Linked DNA regions of Homo sapiens: region 2 is linked to region 1. The links come from fine-mapping of genetic effects on gene expression. A gene starts in region 1. The other region holds a variant in brackets. All regions are shown on one strand. Distances are from middle to middle. Region 1 holds the start of AKAP11 (A-kinase anchoring protein 11). Region 2 overlaps AKAP11 (A-kinase anchoring protein 11).

What was found. PIP is the estimated chance that this variant, and not a neighbour inherited with it, causes the effect.
Region 2: its variant is the best candidate, but not a certain one, in a credible set for the expression of AKAP11 in neutrophils (Naranbhai 2015, PIP 0.76).

The regions. Positions count from the first base shown.
Region 1 is chr13:42,269,864-42,275,241 of GRCh38, reverse strand. AKAP11 (A-kinase anchoring protein 11) reads right to left here and starts at 3,090. Exons shown (of 13, transcript NM_016248.4): 1 at 3,014-3,090. RefSeq lists a silencer at 2,831-3,180 and an enhancer at 3,721-3,900.
Region 2 is chr13:42,317,218-42,322,595 of GRCh38, reverse strand. AKAP11 (A-kinase anchoring protein 11) reads right to left here. Exons shown (of 13, transcript NM_016248.4): 12 at 4,908-5,068; 13 at 1-3,508. The coding sequence ends at 3,368. Among named protein-coding and RNA genes, the nearest start is that of AKAP11, 48 kb to the right of the region's middle. The variant C/A (reference allele first, on the strand shown) is at 2,323.

The sequences.
Region 1 (5,378 bases):
GAGCTTTAAAGAGAAGGCCAATCTGAAAGAAACTGGAACAGACCTGCGTGAGTAGCAGAGACATAAGACCATGTGCTTCCAGAGAAAAACTGGAAGAGTAACTGCCTGAAGACTTTCTGGTTCCCAAAACGCTGAATTGGAATCATGCAATGGACTTCAGCAGCACTGTATGACAAATGCTTTTTTTTTAAGTAGGCTAATTAAATTGGCTTTTTCTTCCTTGCAATCAAAGAATCCTCAAACCATTACGGGAGGTAAAAATAAAAACACTGAGTAAGCAGCTACTATGTGCTTCGCACTAACTTTTTGAGGTGGGTATGAAGAAAATGAGGCTCATTTAATTAATAGACCTGACTCCCAAACCGAAACTCTTTACAATATACCTCATTTTCAGTCAAGTAACATCCTCTCTGTTCCAGGCCTCTACCCCATTTATTTCCCAAGAAACATTCTCAGATTATTCTAAAAATGATAACTTTTCTCCTTTTACCATGTCCAGTCTCTAATCTACAAATTTCAAATGCCTTTACTCCAGAAGTTTTTTGTTGTTGTTTTTTGAGGCAGAGTCTCACTCAGTCGCCCAGGGTGGAGTGCAGTGGCACGATCTCGGCTCACTGCAATCTCCCATCTCTCAGGCTCAAGCGATTCTTGTGCCTCAGCCTCTCGACTAGATGGGATTACAGGCATGTGCCATAACACGTGGCTAATTTTTTATTTTTTAGTAAAGACAGGGTTTTTCCATGTTGGCCAGGCTGGTCTTGAACTCCTGGTCTCAAGTGATCCACCCGCCTCAGCCTCCTAAAGTCCTGGGATTACAAGTGTAAGGCACCAAGCCTGGCCCAGAAGTATTTTTTTAATAAACTTTTATATGTAAGGATGACTGGGAGAATCGAGACACTTGGATCTTTCCAGGCTGTTTTTAAACTGATAAAGCATTTTTCTTTCTCTTCCCCATATTACCAGCTCATTGACCCTTAACTCATGCCCAGGCTTAACTTAAAGCTTTTCTCGACCTGTCCTCACCCTTCAATCCTTCCAGGTAGTTGATTAATAAAATGCAGACCACAAGACAGGAAAAAAAACAAAATCAGTTACCCTATCCAAAGTTACTTCAATTACTTTTGAAAAACCAAACACCACACGCCCTACAAGTTTGAAACCCTTGCCAAAAGGTTATGAAGACCAGCCAAAAAATTTATTTTTCTACTTCTGAAAATTAGTTTGCTAAGATGGAGTAAGAAGGAATTTTTTCTAATCAACACTGGTCTCCTCTGCCCATTCACAAAGAGATATTTTCTAAGTCTTTCACATTTTTGTCACGTATAGACAGAATTCCTCTACCTATTTACAACTGGCATTTTCTCTTAAAACGGCCTTTAATATATTGTCCAAATTGGTTTGAGTTCCTTTTCCAGACAGTAAGTTCCTAAAATTAAAAAATAAAAAAATTAAAAGTACCGTATTTTTTCCAGCCTCTAAAGGCAAAAGAGGACTTCTTCAGCTTCTAGACTTATCCCTGGAGTTCAGGGGGCTAGAGAAGGCTAGAGAATTTCTCACTATGGTTCCATGTCTTAGGCAACTTCCCATATCCTCAACAACTGCAAAATATCACTGGCCTAGGAGTCCACTGCTAGGCCCTTATCAATATTGTCGATACTGCAGTTATGTGGGTACATACATTAGTCTCTAGCTCAGCTTGGGAACCCACTTCTTCCCTGATTTCCTTACATTCTTTGACCTTTCATAAATTACTGTTACAGCTACAATAGTGACATTCACTGTCCACCCCTGGGTCAGTTTTGTCAGGAGGAACAACGACAAGAAAAAATGAATAATCAGGGTACCGTTTGAAAAAGTAAATGTGTTTTTCAAAAAAAAAAAAAATCATTCAATTGCACTATTTTAACTGACACCAATCATGCCAGGCACTGGGCTGCCATCCTAAAATGATGACATTAAAAAAAATATATCTGTGCATTACTGATACCCCATTTTTTCTTAGTACTCCATATTTTGAGTATTTTCAGACATAACAAAATAACAATCGACATGACATTTCTAAAACAGTGGGAAGCAGCTAAGCAAAACGAGCATTTTGCAAGCGATTGAAAAGCTGAAAAGAGAACAGGAATTAACTCCAGTTTGTACTAAAGCTATTAGGTATGTATCTCAGCAGTCTTTCTCACCATGAAACTCCTTAACATCTAAAGCTAAACCACATCCAACTTTATATGGTTTTAGAAGACAGACAAAGCAGAGAAAAAAAATGAAAGCTGGTAATATGGGGAAGAGAAAAAATGTTAGCTTTTACTGTCATTGTCACTTTTTAATACTTCGGTTACATCTACATATTTTTTATAAAGCAGCTTAGATGCCTGGATTAACAGCAGTATACTCAATCCATTCGGGGTACTTTATGGCCAGCCTTAAGCCATTAACAGCCTAGGAGAGTATTTGACAGCAAATCCAAATATCAATACTCTGAGGAGCCCCTTGACGCCTTCCGTTTACAAGATCTGAGCAGCGCCTGCTTCCAAGGCTCCGGGGGTCTGACAGTGAAGGATGCTGTTCGGGAACAAAGTGCAACGTCCTCCCAACCGCTGCAAATGTTCCTGTGCGCACACCACGAACACACACTAAGCACGCGCACCACGCACCCGGGGGGCCGTCTCTGAAGACCACCCCGGGGATGGAAACAGCCTGTCATTAAAAGGGGCGGCAGCTCCACCGCCACACTTGGGACCCCAGGAAGACGCGTCTCGAGACCCAGCACCTCCCTCTACTCTGGGCCCGGTGCGGTGAGTTTCCTCCTTCGGCCGCGCTCCTCCCGCCCTCCTCCCTCCGCCATGCGAAGGCGCAGCTCTCGGGCGGCCCCGAAGCCAGAAGGGGGACCAGCGGCAGGCGGAGGGGCTGGAGCGCCGGAGCCGGGCCGCTCCATCCATGCCGGCCGCACACCCGCCGCCACCCCATCTAAACGCAGCCTCCGCGGCGAGCACGTCGGCGCCCGGCTCACCTGGGGGCCGCAGCCTCCGCAGCTCACAGACATGTCACCGGCCTCAACGACCCGTGAGCGAGCCGGGCAAGCAAGCTGGCCCCCTCCCGCGCTGACCCCCAGCCCTCCCCCTCCCAGCCCCGCGGCCCGCCCCCGCCCTGCCCACCCCTCGGCTTCCGCCGCCGCCGCCGCCGCCGCAGCTCCGGCCCGCAACACCGCCTACTCTCCACGCCTCCCACTCTCTCTCGCGAGAGGGCAGCGCGCCTCTCGCGAGAAAAATTCCGCGGCCGAGCCCGCGCAAAAGTGGGTGGGCGTTTAAAAAGGGAAAGAAGGAACAGGAAAAAAAGCCTTCCCACGTGCTCCAGTGCAGCCCGCGGAGCAGCCCGCGGGGCAGCCCCGCTGGTCACATGACTTAAAGGGGGCCTCTCCATTGGCCGGGACCCACTCAGCCTTGGGAGCTTTAAATTCGAGGGCGACCTACGAACCTGCGGCGGACGTCTTGCGCGCTTCCTGGTCCGTTGCCTTGGAAACGGCTTAACCCTTCCCTCTGGCAAGTCCCCAGGCCTTGGCTTGCTCCGCAGATTTGGTTTCAGGCTCTGCCTCTTTTCCCTCGACCCCTTAGTCTTAACAGCCTGGGGCCAGCTGGGCTCCTTCTTCGCCACAAGGCTAGTTTTGCTTTCTTCCGAAGCCCGGGGCCCTTCCCAAAGTGGCAGCCCCACCAGATCCGAAGGCCCAAGGAAGGCTCATCCTTTCTGATGGCTCCGCCCCTTCTCCCAGCATCTCCGGGGAGGACCACTCACAGCGCACCGGGCAACCAGCCCTATCCCAGCCAAGAAGTAGCTTCCAGGGTTCTCAGGGCCCTAGTGCTCACCCTGATGTCTTTACGTGGTATGGAAATCGGAAAGTAAAGCTTTGGTCACTGGGAAGCCTAGCCAGAGATGAAAAGCTGTTATGGTGATTATTTTCACCTAAAATCGGAAGGGCCAGTCCAGTCAAATTGCCCTGTCTCCTAAAGGGCATCTGTTCCTCAAGAGTGGAAACACCTGGCAATAAGAAAGACATTTTTGAGTGTATCCTCGTTATGAGTTAAGTTTTGCCCTGTTCAGAGGAGAGGGTCACGGAAGAAAGGGTGCATTCGTTTGTTCATTTCTTCATTCAACAAACACTACTCTAGGCTGTTGATTGAACAATGATGAAGACAAGTAGTGTAGATTCTAGGGAACTTATCTGAGGGTGAAAAGAAAAAAAATCTGTTGGTTTTAAGCTGTATGCAAAGAAGTTACAATAAGTGACGTGATGGTGATGGTGACTGAGTGGCTAGTAAAGGGGATGCCCTTTTAAGGAGGAGATATTTTAGCAGCGATTTGAATAACAGACGCAAAAATCAGAGCATAGAGCATTCCAGGAAAAGGATAACACTAATTCAAAGGCCCTAAGTAAGGATCTATTCTAGTGCATTTGAGGGAAGAAGAAATGAGAAAGTAAACTTTCTTGAGCCTGGAGATGGAAACTGTAAGAGTTAAAGAAAGAAACACAAAAAGCAGCTTAACAGAGACAGGTTTATTTTGGAGAATAAACCTGAGAGGGGCTTCTGGCCGATTTCGGTCAGGAGTGTTCTCTCTTACAGACTAAAGGTATTTAGTGGTTTAGGGAGGGAGAGCATATTGTAGACTTGGAATGTTTCTGGGTGGAGGAGAGTTTTATTGTCAGGGGTGTAATGTCTCTGGTTGGAGGGGAGGCATATTTCTGATCAGAGTGGGGTTTATCTCAGGGTTGGAAAGTTTCTGGTCAGAAGTGTTATTTGTGGTTTATGGTCATGCTGACATTAGCCATTAGGCTGATGTTTCTGGGGCTGGATTTAGGCGGTTTTTAATCAAGGGGAACTTAAAATGGCGGTGCTTGTCCAAGATGGTGATGCTCTTGCTCTGTCAGAAACTAGCATGGGCCAGATCCTGTAAGGCTTTGTTAGCCAAGAAAGGAATTGAAAGTTTATTCTAAACGCAATATAAGGTATTACAGAGTTTTTAATAGGGGAGAGACACCCAGAGTTTACTTTTTTTTAAAAAAAAAAAGTCTCGTCTTTGAAAAGAATGGGTCTTAAAGAGGCCAAAGCAGAAGTAAGGGAGATTAGGAGATTTATAGGCCAGGTGAGAGACAGTCATGAAATTTAATTTAATTTCCTATGATCTCAACATTTCTAAAATCCATTAGGTCAGAGTCCTCATGCTGTTTCTGCCTTTGTTGAAACATGTGGATTTCTCCTAATTACTAGGAAAAATAAAATGGAGGATTTTCTTTTGTTACCTGGGGGAAAACAAATGGCTGAAAAGGAAGGGCCCATCTTTAATTTTTTTCCCTCCATTATGCTACACTGACAACCACCTCT
Region 2 (5,378 bases), 47 kb before region 1:
GGACAGGGTTTTTAAATGCAAAGTATTCTCCCTACACCCTGAGTATGGATGCATCAGTTGTTTAAAATTCTGTGGAAAGTTTCCTTAGAAAAACATAAAATTTAAAGTGATATACTGATGGGAAATTGAATATATTAATTGTGGAAGAATATCAGCTAACTAATTAACTAAGTAGACATTTAAATCTGGACTCTGTTGAAGAATCAAGGTTAAACTCTGCATTATGTGCACTAATGTCAGCCATCTAATATCAAAGTCAGATAAGTAAACTATCTTTCACTTTATACATAGTGCATTTAGTAAATAAATTCTCTTACCAGCAACATAAAGCCCTTGTTGGAGCAAAATTAAAGTATTAAGAATTGAATTAACTTACAACAAATATCTGAAGGGTAAGTGGAACATTTTTCAAAGTATAAAGATGTTATCACATATATTCACCATGAATCCTCTTAAAGGTTTTATAACACCATTAAATTATATCAAATATCCAACAGATATTGTCATTTTCTTCTGTGATTTATAAAGGAAACATTCCTTTTGTACAAATCAGAAGTATCTTAAAAATCAACCTTAACACCAAAATATACATGTAATTTTAACTTGGTTTAGGAAAACATGAAAGAACTGTCACATTTTGGTGTGAACAAGGTTCTGAAAACCCCCTATCAGAGGTCTCATTCACTTTTTTCCACATATCACTTGAAGGTTTTGAAACTGGTAAAAACAGAATTCAGCTCGATGTACATCAAAACTTTAACAGTTCTGAAAAAGACGTATTTCGTAAGGGCCAAAATGTACAGCACAGCAATATTACAATGTTACAGTATAAATATGTCAAGCCAATTTGTAATAAAATAAGACAGTTGTCTTCAAAAGAGCTGTTTGACTATAGAGCAACCAAATAGATCTAGAACATCTTTGGAAAAACCACAAAGTGCCTTTACAGAAAGTTAAGTTTAGACTACACTTAATTAAAAGATAATACTCTAAACTCAAAATTATTTTCTCTATATGAGGAATTTTGACACTTGTTTTCACACCTGCCAATATTCAATATTTTTAACTCACACTTCTTTTCATACATCTGCCAATATTTAATATTTTATTCTATGCCCCTGCACTGAATTGATGTAAGTGTGAAGTTCCACTATTATTATTACCACACATGCTAATACCTAATAACTGGTCTGTCATTATGTAGTGGTTAAATAAGCAAATGCTGAACTCAGCACAGCTCTAGCAAAATGCAAAGGAAATAAGAAAAGCCTCACCTCAGAATGATTACACCATAAACAGAAATAAACATTTTCAAACACAAAGTTTCACAAAATAATATATCATCACTTTAAAAGAAATTCAGAACTCTATTTTGCTGTTGATCAAACTTGTGCATACACTCAAGTTACTAAACACAATTTGATAGTTAGATACTTGTAAAAATGCATTCTAAACTTAATAATCAATTAATTCATAATTAACAAGAGCAAACATTCCTAGTCCTAACATTTAAAAAAACCCAGTCCAGTGCTGCCACATCTCAAGTTCTGAAAAGCTAAAGGCAGGAACAATTCTGGTTATACAATTCCTGCATTTCTCCACCTTAAAAAATACTTGAAGAAACTTTAGGAAACTTTATATTAAGGCTTGCTGTATTTCTGTATCTTAAATTGAGAAAAATCAAAACCTACGATGTAACCTCGAATTATTTAAATAGCTTTTGGCATTTTTCTTGAAAAGCAAATTTGAATCTTTCACTATAAAACATTTCTATACCACAATTACTAATTCACATTAATGTGTAAGTGCCCTCATTTCCTATTCCCTGGCAGGCGCTATGTCTTCTTTCTACGTTTTGTGCAGCTTTCAGAACAGTCAGTGCTCAGAAAAAATGAAAACGTAATGGAGCAAAATCAAAGTCCCCAAAAAAAGTGATTTATCCTAGATTACAAAATCCAGTAGTGGAAGAACCAACATTTACACACCCAAATACACACACACCCACACATACACAGGACACAGCGAGAGATGAGAGAGAGTGGGGGGTGGGGGAGGTGAGAGACAGTGGGAGGAGGGGGGAGGGGGAAGAGAGTGGGAGGAGGGGAGAGAGAGTTGCAGGGAGGGAAGAGAGAGACAAAAGCAAGACACAACCTTTGTCCTCTATTCATGTCAACTTGCAGTTTCTGGACACAAACTAGTAGGAAATGTAGAGCCCAGAAAGATCGTGTCAGAGAACTTGACGAGACAGTGTAGATATAGTTTATCTGGGTGGGGCGGGGTGGGGGGAAATCCCAATTTTTCTAAAACAAACAAACAAACAAA[C/A]AAAAAAAACACCACATTCTTGGTAGAGGTTTTTTCAAAAATCCAACAATAAAAACTACTGGGCTTCTCTAAATGCATTTCCATATTAACATTAATTTTTAAAATTTCAACATGTTTTACAATTTAAGTTTTCACTTGTAAGATAAGTTGGGAACCCAAAATTGTCAAAAAAAATTTTAATTATTGTCAATAAAAATTCTTACTGCACAATCTTTATAGGCGTTTTATTTTAAAGCACCTTTTTAAATTTTAACAGTGGGTTTCTAAAAAGAAAACAGTAAAATAAAAGAGGGAACAAACTGGCAAGGTTAAAGTACTCCCTTACACACACACACACACACACACACACACACACACACACACACACCTTTCATGCCAGAATGACTGGCAGCATTGGCAAATAATGTCAATGAAAGGATGGGGGAAACTATCACTTATAGTGTTTATAGAAACCTAAAATACTAATGTTTCTGCTAAGAAATTAAATAGTTTGGGGAAATCAAAAAGCTACCAATAGCTGATCTATGAAATATGAAAATGAAACTGATTTTTAAAAACAGGAAAGGCCAAAAATCTACTAGAAATTTTTAAAAATCAGCCTCAATTTTATTTTCTGATGTCAGACTAGTTATTAATTAGATACCATTTGTTTGCAAAGGAGCAAAATTATAACTCTATCACTGGAACCTATCCTCAGCCACTTCAGTGCAGTTTCTAGCAGCACTATTTGGATACAAAAAGAATGTGGTCAGACAATGCCCCTGAAAACCCCCTGGTTAGACCTTCCTTCAAATACATGTTCTTAGGGTCTTGACACACTACACATGTGTATAGAAGAATAAATGAAGGTAGTATTTTGACAGATTACAAAAGTATGAACTATATACACCGAGTGATAACACAAAGCGCTCAGAAAGCTATATTTACTTGCCTCCCAACTGACTTACGATGTTAATATTCACTATTCAAATTTTATCCTAAACATCTTTATTGGCTTGTTCCCCTCCCCAAACAAATACTAAAATATACTGGTTTGGGGTTTGCTCTATGCATTTTCCAAGAGCCAATCAAACAGCGACTTGCATCTCTCCTCACTGGAAGCTTTTTCCATCACTTCATAGTATTGAAGCACAGCCTGCAGGAGGTCTCCCACTTTCCATCCTTTCTCTTGTAATTGTTTTGAAAGCTAAGAAAGAAAGATGTGTCAAACATTAACCAAAAACAATTTTATAACAAAGCTTTTATTTTTATTTTCAATATTAGCTGAAACTTAAGAATCCTGCTGTTTACAATTAAATACCGTTTCCTAGTTATAACAAGGTCTTCCCCTCTAAACCGCTACCCCTTTACCCAAATTAAACATTTTCCCTTCTTCCCCTTTATAAACACATCTCCTCCAGAGAATGACACTTTGGGATCGCTGGAGACAGAGCTCCACAAACCTCACCAAGCAAATAGTCTGCATGGACATGCAGAGGCTGAGTTTCTACAGGAAATTCTTCACCTAACTAAATACAACTGCCACACCCTCAATTAGGACATAAAATAATAAAGACAACGTCAAACTCAATAAAAGGATGTGGATTTTCCTTCCACAACATATAGTGTGGCATTTTTCTGGAATACACACTCTAGCCTCAATGGAAACATGGCTTTCTAAGTTAAAGAATGTTAATGTTTCAACAACAAAACAACAAATAAATAAATAAATAAATACAGGTTTAAATAAATCCTGTTGTCACCACTCACGACATGCTTTTGTTCATTTCTTTTTCTACTAAGTTCTGTAAAAGCTCTTAAGTTTTGAAAGATCTGTAAGTTAAATTCTGAAAAACTACTTTAATTTTGTGTAACATATATATGCTTAACCTTTTTAAAAACAGCTTTATTGAGATAAAACTCACATAACATACAATTCACCCAAAGTGTCCTAGTCAATGGTTTTTAGTATGTTCTCCAAGTTGAATGCAACCAACACCACAATTCGAATATTTCTACCACCCCAAAAGGAAAGTTCTGATAAAGAAAATTATGGAACAAAAACCTTAAGACTGTAAACTGAAAATCTTGACTAATAAGGTACTTGGCACATAGTAAGCATCTTGTTTAAACTTTTATCGGCTTTTAATTATGACAGCTGCTCATACAAATGAAACTGGATTATCAGAGAAACAGATATATTAATCATTAGGTACAATTACAAATCAATTAAATACAGAGAATAATTCAATTTTTTCATAGGAACACACACAATGCTTATTAATAGCATCTACCTTTGAGAGCTTAGTGTTATGCCAGGCATTAGACCAAGCATTTTTTTTAACATTATATTTAATCCTCATAAACCCCTGTAAGGTAGATTCTATATTCATTTGCATAGTGCAGTTAGGGGCAATGAGACAGACTGGTGAACCTGCCTCTGGTTATACTGCTAGAAAGTGGCAGAGCTGATGTCTGAACCCAAACTGTTGGACACTACAGCCTAAGAATTTAACCATCACCAGGCATCTTGTTAGACCAATCACATGACAAGAACATCATATACTGTTAAATGTATCCTCACACTCTGTAAGGTAGGTACTTACTAGCATAAACTCCTTATTTGCAGAGTCATGAAAATAAAGTTCTGCAACTTCAGCCTCAGAGGCAATGAGCCACTGAAGAATAATCCTTAGCTGGGGGTCTACCGTGCATGGCTCCATGTCAATATTCGTAATTAGCAGTGTCTTTCCATCTTGCCCCAAACCTAATATTTAAATGTAAACAATATAAAGTAAAACTCATCAATTTAACTCTCAATACTCTGGTTGTCAAGTAGATACAAATATTTTCTGGTTCTTAGGATTCTAATGAATGGTGAAAAAAATATCCATCTTTTTCTAACCACACCATAACCTCAACTAAAACTTCTAAAGGGCAAAATAATGTAAAACAAAGGAATAACTTTGATCATTTATTGATTGCAAAAATATAAAACATCATTTTAACATACTGAATTCAAGTTCTATAAATGCCATAATTTGATATAAATTATGACCAGTGGGTTAGAGAGAAAA